2 separate regions of the Homo sapiens genome follow, and region 1 is linked to region 2. Evidence: fine-mapped expression QTL. Tissue or cell type: whole blood. Region 2 holds a variant in brackets; the other region holds the start of a gene. All regions are shown on one strand. Distances are between the middles of the regions.

Evidence for each region. PIP is the estimated chance that this variant, and not a neighbour inherited with it, causes the effect.
Region 1: TRPS1 starts here. The variant in region 2 is fine-mapped to the expression of TRPS1 in whole blood (INTERVAL, PIP above 0.99).

What each region holds. Positions count from the first base shown.
Region 1 is chr8:115,664,799-115,676,102 of GRCh38, reverse strand. TRPS1 (transcriptional repressor GATA binding 1) reads left to right here and starts at 7,128. Exons shown (of 7, transcript NM_014112.5): 1 at 7,128-7,558. RefSeq lists a silencer at 6,854-7,013 and enhancers at 6,830-7,371, 7,484-7,533, 8,514-8,633, 9,671-9,760.
Region 2 is chr8:115,565,402-115,576,705 of GRCh38, reverse strand. The region is part of intron 5 of TRPS1 (transcriptional repressor GATA binding 1); the gene reads left to right. Among named protein-coding and RNA genes, the nearest start is that of TRPS1-AS1, 61 kb to the right of the region's middle. RefSeq lists an enhancer at 11,273-11,304. The variant T/AGTGT (reference allele first, on the strand shown) is at 5,997.

The sequences.
Region 1 (11,304 bases), 99 kb before region 2:
TAGGTGAGGCCTATCCATTGTATTTTTAAATACCCAAGATTCTTTATGAAACTCTTAATTAGATCGTAACATCCACAACGTAGGAGCCATGTCAGCTCATTTACCACTGGGGTACCCAATATCTAACAGTGTCTGGCACACAGGAATTACTCAACATATAATTGTTTGTCTTTACTGAATTAAATTATAAAAATGATGCTAGACTGTAGGGTGCAAAAGTGATTTTATCACAAGTCCTCTATGTCAATAAGAGTCCAAGCAGATAATACAAGGCACACTCAAAGGAGTAATTAAAGAGAATTTAATGAAGGGTCATTTACAGAAAGGTATGAGTAGGATTAAGGAAGCCAAAAAGAGATGGTGAAACACCCAGGGCCTAGTAACAGCCAGAAGTAGCTTCAACCCTCAGGACTAAAACCATAAGGGGAGGGACTTATTACTAGAACCCTATGAGTATAGCCATGGAAGAAGGGCTGCCCAATATGAAAGAAAGGAGACAGGGGGATAAGTACACTGATTATCTCTCTTCCTGTTCTCTGATCTAATGGTGCTCTTGGCCAAAACCCCCTGGAACCTAGATGGCAAGGGAGATCAGGCGATAAAGTGCTCCTTCTCTCATGGCACAGAGCAGAGTGAGAATGTGGAAAGTGCCTTCCTTCCAGAAACTGACAGTTTACTGTCTTCTAATTAATGTAGAGTTACTGATGAATGAAGTTTAGAGTGAAAATAATAACTAATACTTATCATGTGATCATTTAGCAATGCCTATGTGGCTCTTGATGGAGCAGTCAATTCAACTTGTCTGGATGTACTGAGGGTAAGTTAACTGTGTGACCACCAAGATGGAATGCCAGCAAAACAGGGGTTTTCATTTGCCAGATGCTCATGCAGTCCCAGACACATGCCCATGTATACACACACAAACATGTGCTCACACACACATACTTCCGTTAGATTCATAGAACATTATAATGGAATCTCTGCTGGAACCTGGACATTTGGGTGTATAAAATTAATTAAATGTCACATAAGCTTTTGAGAGTTTAACATCTGCAAAACTTGAACAGATGGAATTATGCTAAGACGATTCAATATTTTAATGGTAAACAAGAGAGAGAGAAAAAAATACTGTTAATGTCTAAAGAGTTTGCTTATTCCTACCTCACTGTTATAACTTTCTTAATTCATACTCCTGGCTTCTAAAACTACAAATAATCCCTTCCCATCTAAAATTTATCTGCTTTCAGCCTCATTTTCAATACTCCTATATTTTAATGCCTTGGATTTAAGGATCTTTTAAGTCACTATTTTTAGAGCAACATGGAATTATAAACCAAAACTTAATGATAATGAGGACAATATTTCAGAAGAGGACAAATGTCTCCTCTGATACATTGCCAAAAATATGTAGCTGAGATGAAGGCCACCCAGAAGTTTCAATTAGTACATGATGCATCAGCCCATGTGTATGAAAGAAAGAAAGAGGGAGAAGGAGGGAGAGGAAGGGAGGGACAGAGAGAAGAGAGAGAGAGACACACACACAAAGAGAGACAGAGAGAGAAAAGAAGAAAGAGAAAGAAAAAGAAAGAGAAAGGAAGGAAGGAAGGAAAGAAGGAAGGGAGGGAGGGAGGAAGGAAGGAAGGAAGGAAGAAAGAAAGGGAAGGGAAGGAAATGAAAGGATGAGTGAGCCACATAGAACATTTGAAACCTGGCCTCAAAGGTTTGTTTCTAGGTAGAATTTAAAGAGGTTGATCCAATCTCCAAAATCAATTCAACAGATGTTATTGAGTAACTATGATTTCATGATTTTCTGCCCTCAGGAATCTTTCAGTTTAGCAGGGGAGGGAGATAATTCAAGGAACAATATCATAGAAGTCACTGTGATGAACTGCTACTTAGAAATGGAAGCAAATTCTATAGAATCTTAGTTCTTGCACTGCTGATTATGATTTGGAATTTGATGAAGGTTATGAAAAAGGCAGAATCTCAGTTTGACCTTAGAAGAAGAGAGGATATGCACATGGAGATTTAGCATAAAAGTCTCTTTAAAGCCTTCGAAGTGAGGTGGCTCTGTAAGCATAAGCCAAGACGTTCTGAAATGTTAGCTGTATCTGGGGAATGGGGAGTCAATCAATGATTGAGAATGGTCTGTGTGGAAGAGTTGAGTGAAGAATGAGGCCAGAAAGCCATTTTGGACTAGGTTATGAAAGAACTTGAAGCTTTTGGGGGTTATTCTTCTGGCAGTTGAGAGTTATAGGATTTTTGTCATAAGGTCATGAGGGGTTAGAGTAGGGATGACACATTCAACTGGATGTCTTGAGAAAGATTTTAACTTTTGGGTTTGAGAAGGATCCATGTGGATGAAAAGAAAGGTGGTAACAGGTACAAACACCTTTTAAAAAGAAGCAATAGAGGACTAGTAAATGATTGGATGTGGGGCTTATGGGAGAAGGTATTGCCAAAATCCTGAGGTTTCTGGTCTGGATGACTCAGGCCTTGAACAGAGATAAGGTTTGTCTATTTCCTTCCTCCTTCCATGTTGTCTGTCTTTATAGTCTCCTCTTTCTTAATGATGATATTGGTCATATTAAATTTGAGTTTCTAGTGGATTATTTTAGTCTGAAATTTAGGCAAAATCAGATGTTGAGTTTGGTTATGTACAACTGAGAGTTTATTGCGTAAGTATGGAGTAGTGGGTGGGATAAGAGTGCAAAGCAGCAGAGGATAACGGAGCAGGGGGTAGAAATAGGAAGAAAATTGGAAAACACCTACTCTTCAATGTCAGATGGAGAAGAGTTGAATCTGGGTTAATTCAGATGTAAATGTTCTCTCTTACTTGAAAGAAAGGAAATGAGTTCAGCTATTTCCCATAGAGATTTGGTCTGAGTATACAGCACTGAATGATCTCATTTAGTTCTTTCAATCCAGTGGATAGTATATGGTTGGACATTCATAAAACCTAATGAGAAAGCAAGAATCAATATTTTTATTCTGGGATTGACCCCGGTCAGAGATTGTGTGTGTATGTCTCTCTGTGTGTGTGTCTACACCTCAGAAATTTGTTTCCCTTTTTAATTAAATAAAGCCCATGTTTGCTGGCTTTTAGGGTGGGCTGCAAGGCCCATCTGTTTAACTAGGCAATTGCCTGATATTGCAGGGGGAAGATTGGCAAGTGTAAGTGTGAGTTTGAATACCAGATACAGGCTATTTAAAGCTGAATTTTTCTTTAATAAATTCACCCAGAGGTGTTCAGCAATAGGTAGTTTGGAAAACTACCATAATTTGTGTGGAAGAGTATGTTTTTAAACGTTGATTGCCGAGTGATTGTGGGAAGAAATAAACTTAAGGTAGTTCATCTCTGATAATGCCTCTGTTCCTTCAGGTCTTACCGTGAAGGAAGGCAGAGTATTTCAATAATTGCTTTTGATATGCTGGAAGGTAAAGGGTCTTCCATTTCACATGGGGTAGGACTAACTTGAAAGCAAATAATACATAAATGTTTTCTTGATAGTATGTGTTAAAGCAGTCGGCATTTAGGACCAAGGGTTGTCAATCTTTGAGGTTTCTAAAAGGAATTGCAATTTATGACGTGTTAGGGTAAACAGTTGGATTACATTTCTGAAATACGTGTTCCATCAGGTAAAATCATTGTGATTACAGGCACTGGAACTGTAAGTAAGTAGTGTGCTAAAAGGTTGAAAATGTAAAACAAGTATGCTTGTGCTTAACTACTAATCCCTCTTTGTATCTCTGCTGAATAAACTACAAGAAAAGGGGGGAAAAGAATGTTTAAATAATAAAACAGAAAAAGTATATTATAGTATGTCATTTTGATAAATAATATGCATTAATAATACAGCTTGAGGAACTGTTTCATCAGTGCTAAAGCCACAAGAGAAGATTCCATAATTCAAAGAATTATGAAAGATTATAAAGAAATTATTTTAATTAAAATGTGCTTCTTTTGTTTGCTTTTTTCTTTCTCTTAATATCTTCTTTATTTTCTGGTGTGTCCTATAAAAGCACAGGTTGTCTTTTTAATATCCAGTCTCCATTGTTCAGAAATGCGTTGCAAATAAGGGAATGGTTTTAAGAGTTTTGCATATGTTTGACAGCAGAAGGTATTAAATGTAAATAAATCTTTAATATTTCCCTTAATTCAGTTTGTGCCATGCAAATGTCAGGACTAGAAAAACAAATCAACAAACATTTCAAGGAAAACAATATACGTAACTTATTTTATACATTAAAAACAACTGTCAAACAATTATGACCTCATGTATTAGTTGGTTGTTTTGAAATATTCCTACTAGAATTAAAAAATGCTATGAGGGCCTTTGAGCTTAAACATATTGTGTCAATCAAGAGCACATGTAATGTATCTAAAGCATGAGGTAAAAATTTTCTTCATAAATTATTTCATAAATAAATAAGTAATTTGCTTGCAAAAGTTTACAAAAATATTTGAGCTTTTATTAAGTTCTCTACAGATCCTTTGTGGTTAATGTAAATGAATTGATACAGACAGCAGTTTGATCTGCTCTACTCTAACTTGAAATACAAAAAGTAACATGAAGAGATTCTTCATTTCTCAGGCAAACTTCAGCAAGATTGAGTCCGTGAAACTTCATTCATTAAATTTTTAAGTGACCATGAATTTGTTGGCTTCAGTACCTGAAGTGTAACTTTATCCTTTCAATTAAAAGACATAATTCACCCTCAGACCTTTGGCTTTAACTTTTCATATAATATGTAATTTTGGGTACACTTAATAGTCAAATTTTGTATTATTACAGGTGGAAAAACACCAGCCATCTCAAGGGCTTTGTGCTTGCAAAAGCATGTAATTTCATTTTTTTTTTGAACCAATTTAATCAATGATTGTTTCATGTGAATAAATTTACAGTCTTGATGATTGCCTTAGATTTGTGGGTGATGGAGAGGAAGATCACTTCCCCTTTTAAAATGTCATCTAAATCTTGGGGAGCAGAAGGAGATTAGGGGCCTAATCCTTGTGATAAATTGTACTATTTAACTTTGCTAAGATGCTATAGCCTCAGATTTTATCAGTTAGATACCAGCTTCAGCAGTTTTAGGTGATATTAACCCTTTCAATACAAAACAGTCTTACTGTTCGAATACATATTTCAAAATTGATTTAATATTTTTAGTTAGTCATGGCTCAAGAATGTTTCACTCAGATCCTTATTTTTTTCCTTTAATAAAAATGCTTCTCACTGTGCCGTGCATATTTCCATAAAAGTCAGCAAGTTAATTTATGGCTTAAAAAAAGAAAATAAAAGGTCTATATTTAATATGTGAATACATTTTACAGTGGAAATTGGTGGTGGACAGTATTAAATGACTCCAGTGTGGAAATATGCAGGTGGTCATTAGTAGCTGACTATGAGATTTACTGAAGATTTTGATATTAATTTTCCCGGCATGCAGTACTATATATAAATCTAACTCTGTTCTCAAATTAATTTAAATGGATGATAACATATGAATAACTCCAGGCATATGAGGCTCATTGTCTTCTCTCTCCTTTAGGAAATATATTGTTTGCCTCATTGTGAAACTGTATTTTGACTACTTTTTCACCTGACTAGTTTCTCTATTGCAAAAGAATTATTGGTTTTCTACTCATAAAGAGTGTATGGGAAACGGTACCAAAATACTTCTGGAATAAATGTGCTACAAAAAAAAAATCACATATCTGCTTGACTAGGTATATTAAATAAAGACCATAGAGAAAAAGGAATAAGGTTCTAAAAGCACCTACTTCAGTTTTAATTTTTTAAAATGATTGGCTTTTTCACTTCTGATAATAGTATGTTTGGAAAATATACCCATCTTTTCTCTAAAAAGATGCAAGAATCATTTAGTGAAAAATATTTTGGAGGAAATTACTTCATCTTCGGCTCTCAGATTCATGATTGTACCTAAGATTCTAATTTTAATCATTTTGTAGTTTGGAAAAGGAAAGATGCTTCTCCTTTTAGCACAAAATTACTTTAAACTGACTTTCACCAGAGGAAAAACATGCCACTTAAAGTCACCCAACTGAAGAAAATGAAGTCCAAACGCCCAAGAAATGTTTACTTTGTTTTTAACACCTACTATACTTTGAATCCTGTCATGGTAATGTTTTATGCATTGTTGATCTTTAGAAGTCAAAAAAAAAAAAAAAAGCTCAATCCAGTGAACTTTATGTTGAGGCAATTTCTCTTAATAATGAGAGTATATGGAGATGTAAAGTAGGTAAAAAAGAATGTCACGCTTAATTCAGAGTTCCTTATCTGCTACTAAAACCCAAACTGCATGTATTAATCTTGCAGCATTTGAATAATGTTCCCATTTTGTCTGTTTTGTGGTACCCCCTTAAAGCACCCATTGAGTTTCTGGCTTCTCTTTAGCTCAGAAAACCATAGCAACCTCAGTCCGCACTTCTCCAACTCAGGATAGAGTTCAAGTTGTTCTCCTCAAGCCTTCTTGCCGTGAAAATCGTGGGGAATCCTGATCACCAACTAGGTGTCCTAAGACTTCTTGCCACAGATAAAGGGCGGGGGAGGGGGCGCACACGCACACACACATCCTGCGTCGTTTAATTGGGAGAGAGAAGGGAAAGTAACAACAGAAAAGGTAAAAGGACTTTGAGAGTTCTTTAAATTGTTTCTGTTAGCATCTCTGAGTGTCTGGGGAACGTCGGTTTGGCGGCCACGCACTGCCCCCCACCTGCCCCCCACTACCCCAAGGTAAGTCCTCGTCTTTATCACATTATTCCTAACGCGTTCGGATTTTTCCTCCTTTTCCAGCCCGCACGTTCACAGACGGGAGGTGGGGGAGGGAGGAGGGGGGAGAGGCGGGGCGGGAAGGTAGCCGGGTCCCTGCACCGCGCCGCTCTCATTTGCGGCGCTCCGACTCGGGCGAAGTTCTCGCGCAGCCGGCTCGCCGCGGCCGGGGCCGGTCCCGGCGGGCGGCGGCGGCGGGTGCTCGGAGCCGGGCGGGGCGGCGGCGGCGGCGCGGGGACGCGCGCTGTCTCTTTAAGGGAGCTCGGTCTGGGGTGGCGCTTTCCTCCGCGAAGGCTCCTTTGATATTAATAGTGTTGGTGTCTTGAAACTGACGTAATGCGCGGAGACTGAGGTCCTGACAAGCGATAACATTTCTGATAAAGACCCGATCTTACTGCAATCTCTAGCGTCCTCTTTTTTGGTGCTGCTGGTTTCTCCAGACCTCGCGTCCTCTCGATTGCTCTCTCGCCTTCCTATTTCTTTTTTTTTTTTTTAAACAAAAAACAACACCCCCTCCCCTCTCCCACCCGGCACCGGGCACATCCTTGCTCTATTTCCTTTCTCTTTCTCTCTCTCTCTCTCTCTCTCTCTTTTTTAATAAGGGTGGGGGAGGGAAAGGGGGGGGAGGCAGGAAAGACCTTTTTCTCTCCCCCCCGCAATAATCCAAGATCAACTCTGCAAACAACAGAAGACGGTTCATGGCTTTGGCCGCCGCGCCACCATCTTTCGGGCTGCCGAGGGTGTTCTTGACGATTAATCAACAGGTAAGGAGGGGAGGCCCGAGCGGGCCGCGGGGCCGGGGGCTGCGGGGGGCGCGGGGGGCGCGGGCGCCCCTCGGCCGGGCCCGGGGCGCCGCGACGCGAGTGCAGCGCCCGCTCGTGTGCGCGCAAAATGTGGGCGATCGCGAGCGGGGAGCCCTGGGAATTAAAAGTGACTTTCTTTGAAAAAAAAAAAAAAAAAAAAAAAAGCAGAGGGAGAGTGTGCAGAAAGCCAAGCGCAGGCTTCTCGGGTTTCACATGCATTTTCTTTCTTCCTTTTTGAGCGTGTGATTTCTTTCTTTCTTTCTTCTCTTCTGCTCCCTTTTTCCCCCTTCCTCTCCTCCTTTTGGTGGGTCTGAGGCATCTGAGCTTTGGAAACCAGCGACTTCAAACTGCAGTAGCCCCTGGAGTCAGCAGGGTCAAGTTCAGCCGCCGGGGAGGAGGAAAAACAAATCCCCATTTGCCAAAAAAAGAAGTTTCAGGCCGGTGCCCCCTCCCCCTCGCAGCCCCACTCCCCCTCGCTGTCTCTTTCTGGCTGATTTTAATTCTCTCCTACCGGGCGCAGCGGAGGAGCTGGAGGTGGTTGGACCCGAGGGGCCGCCGCCGCCGCCGCCACTGCAAGTTTTCTGGGGGCTCGTGACAAGCGGGGCGCAGACTAGGCACCAGCATGCAGAGTAGTAAGTTGGGCGAACTCGGGAGGGTCGGGAGGGTCTCAGAGACGGGCCTCCGTATGGTCTCCAAAGTGGGAAAACAGCACAGGACTGCCTTTGGCTTTGAAGAGTTTGCAAATGCAGGCTTCAAACTTTTTTCCCTTAAAGGCCCAGCTGGGCTCTGGAGAAGGCGGGTGTCGCATCCCTTGGTGCACCCGCCTCAGAGCGGCTCAGGACAGCTTGGCCGAGCGGTCTGTGCCCTGTCCGTACCATGTGGCAGGGCCTTGCAGCCCGGGCGCTTCCGTAGGGGCTGAGGAAGGGGCAGACTTCCTCTGCGATGCGGTTGATGCGCCATGTGTCGCGCGGGTCAGGGGACACTGGCCGGTGATTAAATGCCTGACAGCGGTGGGACATCCAAGCGGACAGACGCTTTGCCTTCTGTCTGGTTCCTGTTTGGGATCTAGAGAAACGCATCTTTGAAAGGCCAAGGCAAACATCGCTGTCCCTCCAAATAACTCCAGGATTATAGGACCCCAGGAATAATTTGAGGGTGAGGCGGCGGTGGGAGCTGTTTGAAGTGTAAAGCTGTTTTTGTGGCTGGGAAAGCTTTTTCGTTAGTACCTGTCTGAGATGGTGGTGTTTCCCCCTTTCCCCAGGGAAGTCAGCAACTGTTTTATGGCCCCAGGACTCTAAAGCAATTTAAGTTAGAGGGTGAGAAGGACTGGTGGGTTTCAGAGGGAATCTTGGACTTATTAAATTTTAGGACCGGCTTTACTTCCCTCTATCTTTTTAGGCCTCATATTTGATGCTTTGAAAGTTTTTTGAGTAAGCCATTGATCTTAATGATGAATCTAAATTATGATAGAATATTCATTCTTATGCCATTTTGGAAAATCACGGCTAGAGTTTAAGCGAGGTAAGTGAAGTGAGAAGCTCAGCGGAGGAGTTAAATCTGAGACAAGTTAGGCCTATTCATTGAACTTTTGTAGATTCATTGAACTTTTGTAAACACACCAGGTGAACAGGAAAGGAAAGGGTCTGGGAGAGATAATAAGTACAAAAGAAAAATACAGATAGGGCCTGAGACAAAATTACAAAGAAATGATAACTCTGGGCCTGGTTGTTGGCTAAAACTTGATTGTTCAAAGCAAAAATAAAATAGGAACCTTCCAACAATTCTTCAAAGTCCTCCAGCTCTGAAGCTAAAACCTATGGATCTTGCTGGCATCATGTTACTTTCCTGCTGGTTTTAGAAAAAGTTGATCATTTAGAAAAGGCTGCCAGAGTTAAAAATGCAAGGGACAGCAGAGGAAAGTCATGCGGGCAGCCAGTTCTTGACGTGGACAAAATGAGAATGAAAGTTTCTGAACTCACTGTTGTGAAGTTTTACATGCCGCTCATTTGCTTAGAAGGCTCTCTCAGATATTCCACCAGTTAACGTATAAAAGCAAACAGGATCTAAAATCGTGTGGGCTTTTTTTTTTTTCTTTCCCCAAGTATGCCAGGGTTGTGAATAAATACAGGGTTTGTATGGGAAGATGAAGCGTTTCCTGTAAGTTCTGATGCTGACAGGACAGTCTGGAAATGATACCAACATTTTGAGGATTTTTTTTTTTTACCTTTAAGTGAAAGTTTATTAATGATATGCTTAATCTTAACAAGTCAAACATATTCTTAGAGTTTCTCTCTCCTTGGATTTCATAACTTCCTTTTAAAGCTACACCTTTGGATAAAAACATCTCTAGATTCAGTTCAATATACAGGGCTAGTAACATGCTAAAGTTTGACGATTATTTCTGGATGTTAATAATGTGAAAATAAAACTCCTGAGGGGCAAATAGAGCCTTAATACCAACATTATAACTTGATTTCTCTGAATGTGAGGCCTTCTGAAGCTTCATTAGTACTCTGTTGGCGAAGTATTATTTACCACTGGCGAGCTGATGTTTATGGCTTCCTGATATGTATGTTATATGTTAGGATATATATGTGTAGACTGCTTTTCCATACATAATACCTAAGTCTAACACTTTTCAAATAAGTGGTGGAAAGTAGCAAGTTACTAACACAAAGTTTGTCACTCCTTTGAATTCTAGATGCTGTAAGGGTCTGTGCTACTATTTAGGTTTTGTCCTTTGTCTCTTAAAGGTAACGTTAAAGGTAAGGAGAAAAATGTCATAATAGCTGTGAAGTCTGAGCTGAATTTAGAACTTAGCATTTCGATGACTAATATTTTAAATGATTTTATAAAATTTTCTGCATACGTGTTTGAAAACCAGTTTAGGATCGGAATCAGTGTGCTAATCCGAAATAAGTTACACATACTACTACCATATTTTCAGTATTATTTAAGTCACCTACCACTCCTGAGTTTATTCTGATTTACATCATATAGATCTCTTCCTATAAGGAAATATTCATTCATAAGGAAGACCTTTAAAACAGGGAAATGCATGCATCTGTAGAAAAGCAGCTTTTACGATTCTAGTATTTCAGTGACGGTTCTATTATCACTACTATTATTAGATGTATATGTGTATGTGTGTACAGACATACAACCCACAATATGTGATTAATGATGTGTACATTTTTATTAAGAAAGCAACCAAAGACTGTAGATTTTTATAAACGCTTGTCTTACCTTCTTTGTTGTAAATAAACATTACTGAAAGTTTCCAGAGGACTTGCAGCAAATTGTTTTTGAACTAGAACTTTATTCCAAATTTGAAATTGGAATAAATGCTGATAACTGACCTTTAAACATTTTTCATAACATGAATATTTTAGAATAATTATATTTTAACTTCAGTTCTTCTTTTGATAGCAACAATAATGTAACAACACTATGCTATTACGTGTACAACAACACAGACTTTAAGAAAGTTATGGGCAGGTGTCTATAATTGATTTAAAGGAAAGATTATTTTTGTAATAAGTGATGAACTTAAAATGACTGGCTTACATTAAAACATATTCTTATTAAGATTTCTCTGGTGTGTAAAATGAAGCCATTCATTCAACAGGCTGACAACTTTCCACTTGGTATTTGCCTTTCCTTAATTTAGTTTCCGCAGGACAGCTAGTGTGGTAGTCTGCATCTGT
Region 2 (11,304 bases):
TGGCTGTGGTTCAGGCCTGCCTGTATTTTATTTTCTGGTAAAATTAGATGTTATTTTTTCTTTTTGCTCTTCCCTTGTGATGTAGTGGAAAGTGCTCTGGATTGGAGGAAAGGAGACTTTGTGTTCTAGATTCACTTTGTGACTAACTAGCCGTGTGACCCTGGGTGAGTCACTCAAGCCTCATATACTGTTTCCTGCTTTGGAAGATTATAGTTTGAAGTATGCAGTTTCTCAAATCTCTTTACAATTGCAGAGTCAAGCAAATCTAGAGTCAAGTAAATTTCCTTTAAAACCTTAAACATTCAGATCTATGAATTGATACCCGAGGCAACTTTAAGACAAAATCTTATATTTTGGACGTAATGATGCTGATGTCCAAAGATCTAGATCTATATCTATATCTATATCTATATCTATATATATATATGAACTACAAATTCTTAAATATGATTTCCAACCAGTGGCTGAGAATCCATAAGTTATAAGCAACTGTCACACATACAGTCTGAAAGCTTCAAAAATTGTATTATTTGAACTTATCTTGTACAAGAAAGCCCATTCTTTGGAAACAACTTTGCTGCAAAAGAATCATGTCAAGGGGCTGCTGATGAATGAAGTTAAAGGAAAGTAAGCACAATGAGAAAATAATTCTATGAGAAAGTGACATGCTTAAAGTCTCCTTCCTCAGTTTCTTGGCATTGAGCGATGATGCCTGTTTTGTTCACAGTCAGATGTTCAAATCAGAATTTTGGATGCAGAAACTAATTTTAGTAGGTGGGGTGCAAATTTCTTATGAGTCCATGAATAGACTCTAATCCCAGCTGTTTCATTACAATTATAAAAATAAAATTGGCTGTGAATCATTCAAACTCTGTTTAATGGATGTGAATAATTCAGTTTCATCCCACTGAAATCTTAAAACTATAAACCTATCTTTGTTCTTTATGTTCCTTCAGAGATCATATGTCATTACTCATATATGAATTATTTGAAGTATGGGTGATCATGATGAAAGTGACCAAATTTCTACTTAGCTCCTGTGGGTTTCAGGAGAGGAGGTGGCCTCTAGGGTGAGGCTAGGGATTAAGTGGAGAAACAAATTGGGAAAAGTCCAGGAAAAGAGAAAAGGGTGTTAAATTAGGATTTCTTGGCATTATCTTTCCTATCAAGATATATGTTCATTATAGACATTTTAGAAAATATAAACAAGCAAAAAGAAGAAAATAAGTTTTCAACGTTTTTAATGTATTTACTTCTGGACACAGACACACAGGCACATGCACACTCAGACATGCTCACTCACACACATAGACATGCACCTGCAAACATAGATTTGTATGTTTATTATTAAATAACTTTTAATTTCACTTTCTAATAAATTACACGCTGTTTTATAGCAGCGTATATTCTGCTACATCATATTTATTGACTTCATAGTATTTCACTATATGTTGTACTAGTTGTCCTAGAAAAACTGTCTATCGATTTCTTATTGTTGGACATTTATTTCTATTTTTTGCTATTATCAATAGTGCCACTTTTAGTATGTTTATAGCTGAATAATTGCAACTTGCTTGCGATTTTAAATTTTGAGAATTGGCGTCCCAACAGTCAGGCTCCTCTATGGGACCACACAGTAGTAGAGTTTATTGGCAAGCATAGGTCACTTTACCAGATCATGTATATAGACTCCTGAGAAACAGGAAAACAGTATTATTTCTTGGCTTCCATTATTTTGAATTGCCTTGCAGTGATAGCTAAGAAATAGAAACCCTGAAGTTTTTTAAACATTATTATAGTGGAAAAAGTGAATATGATTATTTGAATAAGGTGCATTTCTTGAGCAGCAGCAAAGAATCAGCCAGGTATTGATTTTACTTTCATAATTGAAAGATTTCTCAGTCACTTGGACATTCAGAGAATATTTCATAGGACAATGCACTTATAAAGTTATATATATATATGGGATTTAACTGCCTTCAAAACATTTCTTAATATGTCAAATTTCTTAATGTGTTTTGGTGAGCACATGAAGTTGATGCCAGTAACTACTCAGTGAAGTGTTTGGTGCACAAACTGAATTTTGAAATATTTAAATTTTCTTTCATTTGCTTACAGCTATTTGTACAGTTTATTGTAAGATAAGAATGAAAATCAGGTGTTAAAGCAAAGAGTACAAAACTATTCTATGTCCTGTCTCTTTTCAGTTGCTTCTCCAAGCATTAGACTTCTCTAGGCAAAGTCCTTTCATAACACTAGAGATTCATTATATTTGGTAGTTCATGAAATTTTAACAAGACACACTTCTGTTTGTGGGATTGGAATGCGTGTTGGTGAGTGTCCGAATTTAAATATATTGGTATTCATATGGATTCAGGATTTATTTTCAAAGAACAGATATTCACTAGACCAAACTAACCTGTACTCAAACTTGAAAGAAATAGAAATAGAAAAAGCAGAGGATAACTTTGTGGAGTTAATTCCTGATATACTGGTCTCTAAAGTTTCTTGTTGTCCGATAAATATTAATTTAGCACCTGCTGGGTTTCAGGCAGGAACTGTGGAAGAACTTATAAAGGGTATGAAAATGAGTATATCAAGATTTCTGTACTCAAGTTATATACAGTTAGCTGTAGGTGATAAGACAGGTATGGTGACAGCTAAAATACAATCAGACTTCCATAAAAGAGGTGAAGGGAGACGAGAATGATTATGATTGTTTAAAGAGGAACAGATCACATTGTGTTGAGAAAACCGACTTAGTTGTCCCAAAAGGTTTTCTGAGCTTGTTTCGGAAAGGAAGACTGGACTTTTAGCAGGTGAATATGACAGCATGAAGGGTAAGCCAATATAGAAGAAACAATGTAAGATTACAAGGGGCATTTTCAGGATATAGGAAAGAGAAAAGCTTGATGAAAAGTTAGGTATAGTATAGTATGGGGAGCTAAGACTTGACATAAAGGTTAGGATAATTTTCTAAAATGTTTATTTGAAAAACTTTATCTCAGAAGGAAATAGGGAACCATTCCAGGATTTGGGCAAAGGATAATTTGATGAAACCTTTAATAGGGTTAATATGACCATCTTACATAGGTTGACATGGAAAGGAGGTGGACGGGGTTGAGGTGACGAAGACTCATTAGTAGGCTGATCTCTTACTCTATGAGTAATAACAGGGAGCCTACACTAGGATAATGATGTTGGGAAGTGATTTCTGTAGCTATGCTGAGCAGACAGTCTTCAAGAGTTAGCAAAGTTTATATGTGCGGGTGACAAAAAAGAGGCTTTGAGTTTTGATGACTGAAAGGAGACAAATAATAGCTAATCTTTGATAAAGACTAACTATGGGCAAGGCTTTACTCTTTGTTTGTAGTAACTTACTTAATCCTCATTATAACCCCTTTATATAGATGCTGTATTTTCTCCATTTTACAGAGAGGAAGTAGAGCCTCAGAGATGTTATGTCACTTGTCAAAAGTCACCCAGCTAGTGAATGGCTGGATCAAACTGGATCATGTCCAAGTAGCCTGGCTTCAAAGTTCACACGCTTTACTATATTTATTCTTTTTTTTTTTTCTTTTGAGATGGAGTTTCGCTCTTGTTGCCCAGGCTGGAGCACAATGGCATGATCTCAGCTTACCACAACCTCCACCTCCTGGGTTCAAGCGACTCTCCTGCCTCAGCCTCCCGAGTAGCTGGGATGCGCCACCACGCCTGGCTAATTTTGTATTTTTAGTAGAGACGGGGTTTCTCCATTGTTGGTTAGGCTGGTCTCGAACTCCTGACCTCAGGTGATCCACCCACCTCGGCCTCCCAAAGTGCTGGGATTACAGGCGTGAGCCACGGAGTCTGGCGTATATTTATTTTCAGTGTATCATTAGCAGAATTCTAGAGTCAGCTGTTCTGTGAGGGTAAAATAATGAAGCTGGTTTTGTACTTACCAAGTTTGTAAGGCATTCAGATGAAAATATCTAATGGATAGCTGGAAACGTAGGCTGTCATAGGGAATAGAGGAGTTGGAATGACTTCCAAATTAACTAACATTCATTTAATAATTGAATATAAACTGAAAGCCTAGTTTGTTCAGAATATTATAGGAGCAGCATTACCATGACTAAGCTATAGACACTGATTCTTTAAGACTTTTGCAAACCAGTAGCAAAAATAATGTTCAATAAACCGATTACAGCACAAGAAAAAAAGAGTGTCAGGTACCACAGAGTGAGAAAAAACAACAACAATAACAAAAAAAAAATAGCAAAATGTTGTAGAAATTTAAAAAAGGAAATGACCCCTTCTCAATTAATCTATCAAGACAGTGTTCCAGAAGAGGTTGCTTATCAGTTGGTTCTTGAAAAGTGGTATTTGGAAAGCTTAAGAAACATAGTACACTAGCCTACAGAGAATCTAAGCAGAAGTTGAACTTTTCACTCCAACTAAAAATCTATGTTAAAAAAAATGAGTGAGGCCCCCTCTGCAGTGAAAGTTACTATTTTGACATTTGTGAGATCAAATTTTAAGATCCTCTGGGTATGTCAAAGTCTTTTCGTAATTGATAGGATTCAGAAACACCACAAAGACATGCATGCTTTAAGTATCTTATTGTAACCAGCTAAACTAAAAGAAGAGTACGTTTTAGAACAGAAGGTGGGTATTTAAATCAAAGTCTAAAATAAAAATTTAATTGTTTAATTATGTAAATAACTTCAAAACGTTTATCTTCTTTTAAATATATAAATATATATGTAGGGTGTGTATATATGTAAATAGCGTTTATTCAGATATAAATAAAAAATAGCCCTACTACTTAGGGTCGTATATACATATTATCAAAGAAAAAAATATACATGAAAAGATTCTTGAATACCCATTTAAAAATGAATGCCGTATTTACTATGCCTGTTGGATAGATTCATTATATATAAGAACTATCAAATTTTAGTTTTATGTATTGGTGTTCTGATTTATTCGCTAATCATTTCTCTTAGATTTAACCCAGTGGCTTATTTTCAAGTCTTGTTTAATGTCTTATTTTATAATTGAGGAAAAAAGAGAAATGCTTGCCTGTGATATATCACCTGTTGTTTAATCGCTAACACTGTTACATATCTTAATACTGTATCACATTAAGTCATTTTAAAAGCATTCTGCTTTCCCTTTTGTTTAAAATTCCTACGATCCCTGGGATATTGGTAGGGGGTTAATGGAAGTCTTGATTAAAATCTTCCAAGCTTTAAGGCTTTCAGTTCTTGTAAACAATTTGGATCTGAGAGATAGGCCTATTTATGACTTTTTACTAGCCTATTTACCCATTTAATGTTAAGAAAAAAATATGCTTATTAAAAGTTTTGTTATAATAAGTACAAATTAAAATGTCTTTTAAAAAATCAGCCACACTTCGTTGTGTGATGATCACAGAATTTATGGTAGTTCTTTTGAAAATTGTCTGAAGATGTATTATAATCATTTTAAAAGTAAAGGAACTACCCTGAGTATACCAATTTTCCATTATTTTAAACAAACCTTTTAAGTTTTATATCTAGATTGCTTTTAAGTAGTTATTTCCAAACTTGAAGGACTATGAACTCTAATCATAATCAATCTGCACTTGTGTCATAATAGCTAACCTAACTATATAGTGGGTGAAAGTCTTGGAAATAGGTAACAATACAGTTGGAGTTTACACTTGGGCTTACAGGCCCAGTCCAGACGATTGATCCAGTGGACCAGCCCAAGCTAGTCTGACCTTTCTTATGGCTGGCAACACTGACTGCACAGTATTCTGGTTCGGTCAGAAGTCTTGGTTATTCTATTTTTAATGAACAGACATGCTGAGTTTCAAACATGGTGGTTTTGGTTTACATGGGATTGAGTTGGCATGCATGTAGTTTCCAGTTCTTATGATTTTAAGGTATCAATTTCATGGCAATGTTGGGGTTTCTGTGATACTCCCTGGGCTTGAAATTGAAGTTCATTGAAGTGTGAGTGTGTGTGTG[T/AGTGT]GTGTGTGTGTGTGTGTGTGAGTGTGTGTGTGTTTTTTTTGAGGTTTTTCCACTAAAAGCAAGGAGCTTTTAGACAAGTATGGGACACAGTAGAACAAAGATATGAGAGATACTGCAAATACTAGTTCTTTTAATTTATCCATTTGCAAATTTTCCTCCTTTAGCAGACTGAGAGCTCCTGAGGGCTGTGCATTTTTATATTTTTGTTTCTTGTTGGCCCTGTTATACTGCTAATCTTTTAGGAGGTCTAAAATCAATATATCTTTAATGGAATAGAATTATATGAGGAAATATGCATTTTTTAAAATTTGGAAAACCATATTTTATTTGCTGTATGAGACTGCCGTACCGCCTGTGTAAATTTTCTACCATTAAGATTATAATTATAAATTGATTATTATTTGTATACTCTTTTAGGACTGATGAATTAGTAAATTATTACTTTGTGCATTATTTCCAATAACCTTTAGGGTATAAGATTATCTAGTGAGTTACTTACTCTGGAAAAAATCAATTACAGCAATTTAGGGTTCGTATAACAATAAAAAGGATTTGAGCTTTAATGGAACATTTTAACACTTGGCATGTATCTATATCTACATATATATCTATATATATCCCTTTTTTCTGAGTTATCTGGTGAAACAGAGATTTCTTTATAGAATTTTGTGACACAGGAATCTAGAGACACAATCTGCCAGTGCATTTCTAGGTTTTAAAAGTTTCAGTTCAAACCTAAAAAGTCTATTTGTTAAATCATGACTCCAAAATTTATTTTTTATATACCTTCTTTTTTTAATAAAATTGACTCTAGGTTCAATTTTGGTTGAACTTAATCAGTCTTCTTTCTACACAGCTATATTATTAGTTTATATAGAACACAGTGCTGGCAAGTGTTGAAACAAAAATGTGAAGAATGATTTACCATACCAATATACTGCTTCCTTCTAAAGAAGGGAGATATTTTAGAATATTAGATACTGGGCTCAAGATAACCAGAAATGTGTAATGGGACCATTTATCTATATCATTTTATGGCCAAGTCAGAGAAGCAAAGGCATATAGCCCAGAAAGTGTGATAAGAAGAAGAGAAAGATACTAGTAGATTATTATTCCTTAAGTCTGCAGCATGACTTAACTAGAGACAAACCTGGATACGAGAACTTGAAAGCTTTTGTGAACTCAGGAATGCATATGATGTTTGTACTACAAACTCAACCTCATCATCTTAATCTCTTTGCCTAGAAGAGATGAATAAAAGTACAGGTTATATTTATGAAACTGAAATCTATAAAGGCATGGAGCTCTTTTCCTCAAGTGGGAATTCTTGTGTGTTTATTTGACCCTTTAGCAAATTAGTGGAAGTAAAGGAGGGAGAGAGGGTATAGCTGTATGGAAATAAAGCTGGTGAAGTATTCTGCTCTTCTGTTCTTCTTAGTCTTGATGGTGAACCATGCCTACACTATACTATCACTCTGGTACCAGATTTATTGCCTGCCAGGATTGGAATTCATGCAGAGAGGAAGGATTCATGAAAAAAATAATCAAAGTCAGGAAAGTCTTTTTCTGTAATCTTGTCTCATACAGTGAGTTATTTTTGTCTGGGTAGTTTACGGGGATGTAACTCCTTCAGTCATCTAACCGTGATGTAGTAAAAGTCATTTGCAGGAAATGAAACTCCACTTTGTTACTTTTTTCACTTAAAGGCTAATCTGATTAGCTTTAAAACATTTGTTCATCTTTTAATTCAGTATTTGTATGATGCCTATGGAAGACATATGGATTTAAATAGAACTTGGCTAACCATCTGCCAATAAGAGAAAGTGAGATGCTAAATCAGAGAGGCAGGAAAGTCTATTTCAGTAAAAGCTATTTTGATCTGAAATACTGTAGGCAGTCTTACAGAGTATTTTAATTGGGAGGATATTGATGCATGCTAGTAAAAGAAGTGTATTTGCTGATATGGTTGAAGTTATGTAATCATTAAATTTCTATATAAGTTTAGAGATGTGGAACTATGTGAAATTTTGATCCTGTTAATTATAATTTTTTTTCCTAAAAAAGCCATTTGTGGAAAAAAATTTTCTGATATATTTTTTAGAGCAGTGGCACGTTTTATATCTCATGCCAGAAACTAGAGCATAAAATATCAACTTTTCAAATAAATTAACTAGAAATAAAGAACAATTTATTCAGTGCTAATTTGTTGATAATTTTTTATAGTAAACTATGTTTTAAAAATTTAACTTTGGGGAAATTAGAAAGAAGAAAAAGAATATCTTTTCTCATGATGGTAAAATGCTGATGTATAAAGCTGAAAAATTTACAATTATGTCATATTTATGTTTTAATTTAAAATTGTGAGAGTTTAGAGTCATGTAAGCATTAAGAAAGATAAAATATCTGAATTATATATATTTGCATATATGTGCATGTATATACTATTCAACTTAACCTTTATAAATAAGCCTTATTTTTATTATTCAGATTAATTGTTCATTCTTATATAAAATGTGTCTGGCATTTGGTTTTTGCTGGGGGAGTACAATAATACATGGTATCTGCCTTCTGGGAAGAAGTACAGTAATGGGTCAGGAATTAGGACAGTCACTGTCAGTCACAGTCATCATCTCAGTTAATCCTCCAAATAACATTATGATGCTGGGCATTGTCAACTCAATTTTATTGATGGCACTAAGGTATAGAAAAGTTAAGTAAGTTGCCCCAAAATAACACAACTGGTTTAAAACTCTCAGTATGAGAGGTGTTGAAACCATAGCCTCTTACAACTAGAAGATCACTGTATTCAATACTCTAATCCCTGATATATCATGAATGCTGAAAGAGGATTTAGACTCTACTACACAGACGCCCTGAAAGAGCTGCAGGAGGCACAGGGAATTATATTAACATAGTGGATTGCACGTTAGGGACAGAAATGGACCAAGGAGCACATGAGAAGTCCACATTGATAGAGGTGCCTGGCATGGGCTCCCCTTCTCTGCCCAGATGGTGTTGGTGTGACCTGATGGGTGGCACCTTCTTGACAAGGATCCTTGCTTTAGATATTTGGAATATTTTATGTTATCAAGCTATTTAGAAATTTTAAGTCACTGCAAAAGTGCTCATTCCAAATTCTGTTTCTTGCCTTTGTCTTGAATCCATATCTGAATATTTAGGAAGATTTGGTATTGGTATAGAGAGGTATCAATTTGGCAAAGATCCTTCTTTGCCAAATTCCTGGAAGTGGAATTGCTGTGTCAAGGACAGTGCACCTGAAAATGTGGACAGGTAATGCCAGATTTCCCCACCCCCCTTTCTAATAACAGTGAATGACCTGAGAAGTAATTGTGTCCATTTAGAATTTCATTAGATTACGATGGAAATGAAGGTAGAAATGAAGAATCAACATGTGGAAAAAATATGTCTGTAACTAGGAATTGATGTACTGAGTTTTTCTGTCCATGTTGATTTATTATTCCCTTGATGGCATTTTTGAGACCAATTATTTCAACATGTGGTGAATCTTTTTATTCATCTGTCTCTCTGTATCTGGAACAAGTATATCTTGGATATACCTGAGGCCTAAAACTTGGTGTTAACCAGACTTTCCTCTCTATGGTGTAAACTGCCATAGTTGGCAAGAAATATTCCAGGGAAAGCAATGTAAATTTTCTCAAATGAGAAAGATGCGTGGGTTTATTTAGGATAAAAAGCAGAGACATAAATGCTACAAACATATATGGTATTAGAATGATTATTACATTTATCCTATCAGGTTTTGAAGCAGTATTATTGCCTTAGTTTCTTGCATCAATTTTTCTCTTCATTTTTCCATCTTATCTCTTTCCTTTCACAGAATGGTTTGATGAAATTATAGGCACTAAACCATTTTTAATTACAGATCTCTTGAAAACATATCATCTCACTAAACTTCGAGGCAAAATGAAAATGTGTGATTATCCCAATTTATTAGAACTTTTGTAGCTGTCTTAAATTTTTACAGATAGAGGTTGAAGTTGCCATTACTTAGTGAAGAGTCATTGTCCGTGGTTTGAAGAATGAGTGACAAAATTAATCAAATTCTGTTTTTTTTTCTGTTTTCTGATTTCTGGAATATTGCCATTTTCCATATGTTTTTCTGACCTTAGGAATACCAGCTGGCTACAAAAAAAAAGAAGAAAGAAAAAAATGCAAAAACAACAGCAAAACTCAGAAATCATTGCTTCCCTAAGCCATGCCATTGGCACTGCCCCTCCCTTAGTGCCACATAACCTGGAGCTCACTAGCAAGGTTCTAGATCTGCATCACTTCCATTTTCTATTTTGCCAACTGGCCTTGAGCAACAGGTGTGTATTCTTCTTGTTGCTGCAGGCTTGAAGGAACTGTAGGGTAGCTTCTGTCCACAATTCTGACCACTTGCCTTTTGGCAATCTGTTTAGTGACTTTAGGCTCTTCTATCAAGGCCATCTTGTAGACTGGGGGGTTGTCCAGAATTTTATGATACATGCAACATTCTGACCACCTGCTAAGACTTAAATGAACAGACTACATGTAGATATTCTTTCTTTCTCTCATACTTAACTTTTGCCCATGCACATTAGTATCAAAGATGTTATGGTAATTCAATATGTACAGTTTTCTTTAAAATAGGATATGGCCACGAATTTGCTAAAATCTATGCCATGGTATGAGGATAACTTACATGAAAATATGGTACAAGATTAGGTAAACAGTGTTGTTCATATGAGAACTTAAAAATTCCCTTACCTTGAAGTTTCAAGTAAATGTCTTTCGTCCTTTTAATTTGGTGTGATAAGAAATATTGCCTTTGGTGTAATCAGAATTATGTAGCATGATGCTTCTTCTTGGTGCTGTTATTTTTACTGCAGTAAATATTTATTTTAGTTGGCATTGTTGAGTTACCTCATTTGTGAGCACAGCTAGTAAAGCTATGGTTAAATTTTATTGCTTTTACTCTTAGAATCACTTTCTCAGCTAGTTTACCTTGGAGAGACAACTTTACGTTTTCCACCAAATTAAAGAAGCTGAGAAAATTGGGTGGAATTTTTTTCTTTTTTTTTCTGTTTAAAATGTGGTTACTTTGTAGTACTTTGGCGAACTCACTAATGTATGTATGAAAGCACACGCTTATCAAATGGAAAATAAAATCAAAACAATGAACTCCAGTATGTTTAGTAATAAAGAAAACAAAAAAAAAAACCTGTCATTTTTTCCAATGCAATTAAATACAAAGAGACCACTAATATTACATTTATCTAATTCATGTCTTCTCGGCAATATGAAC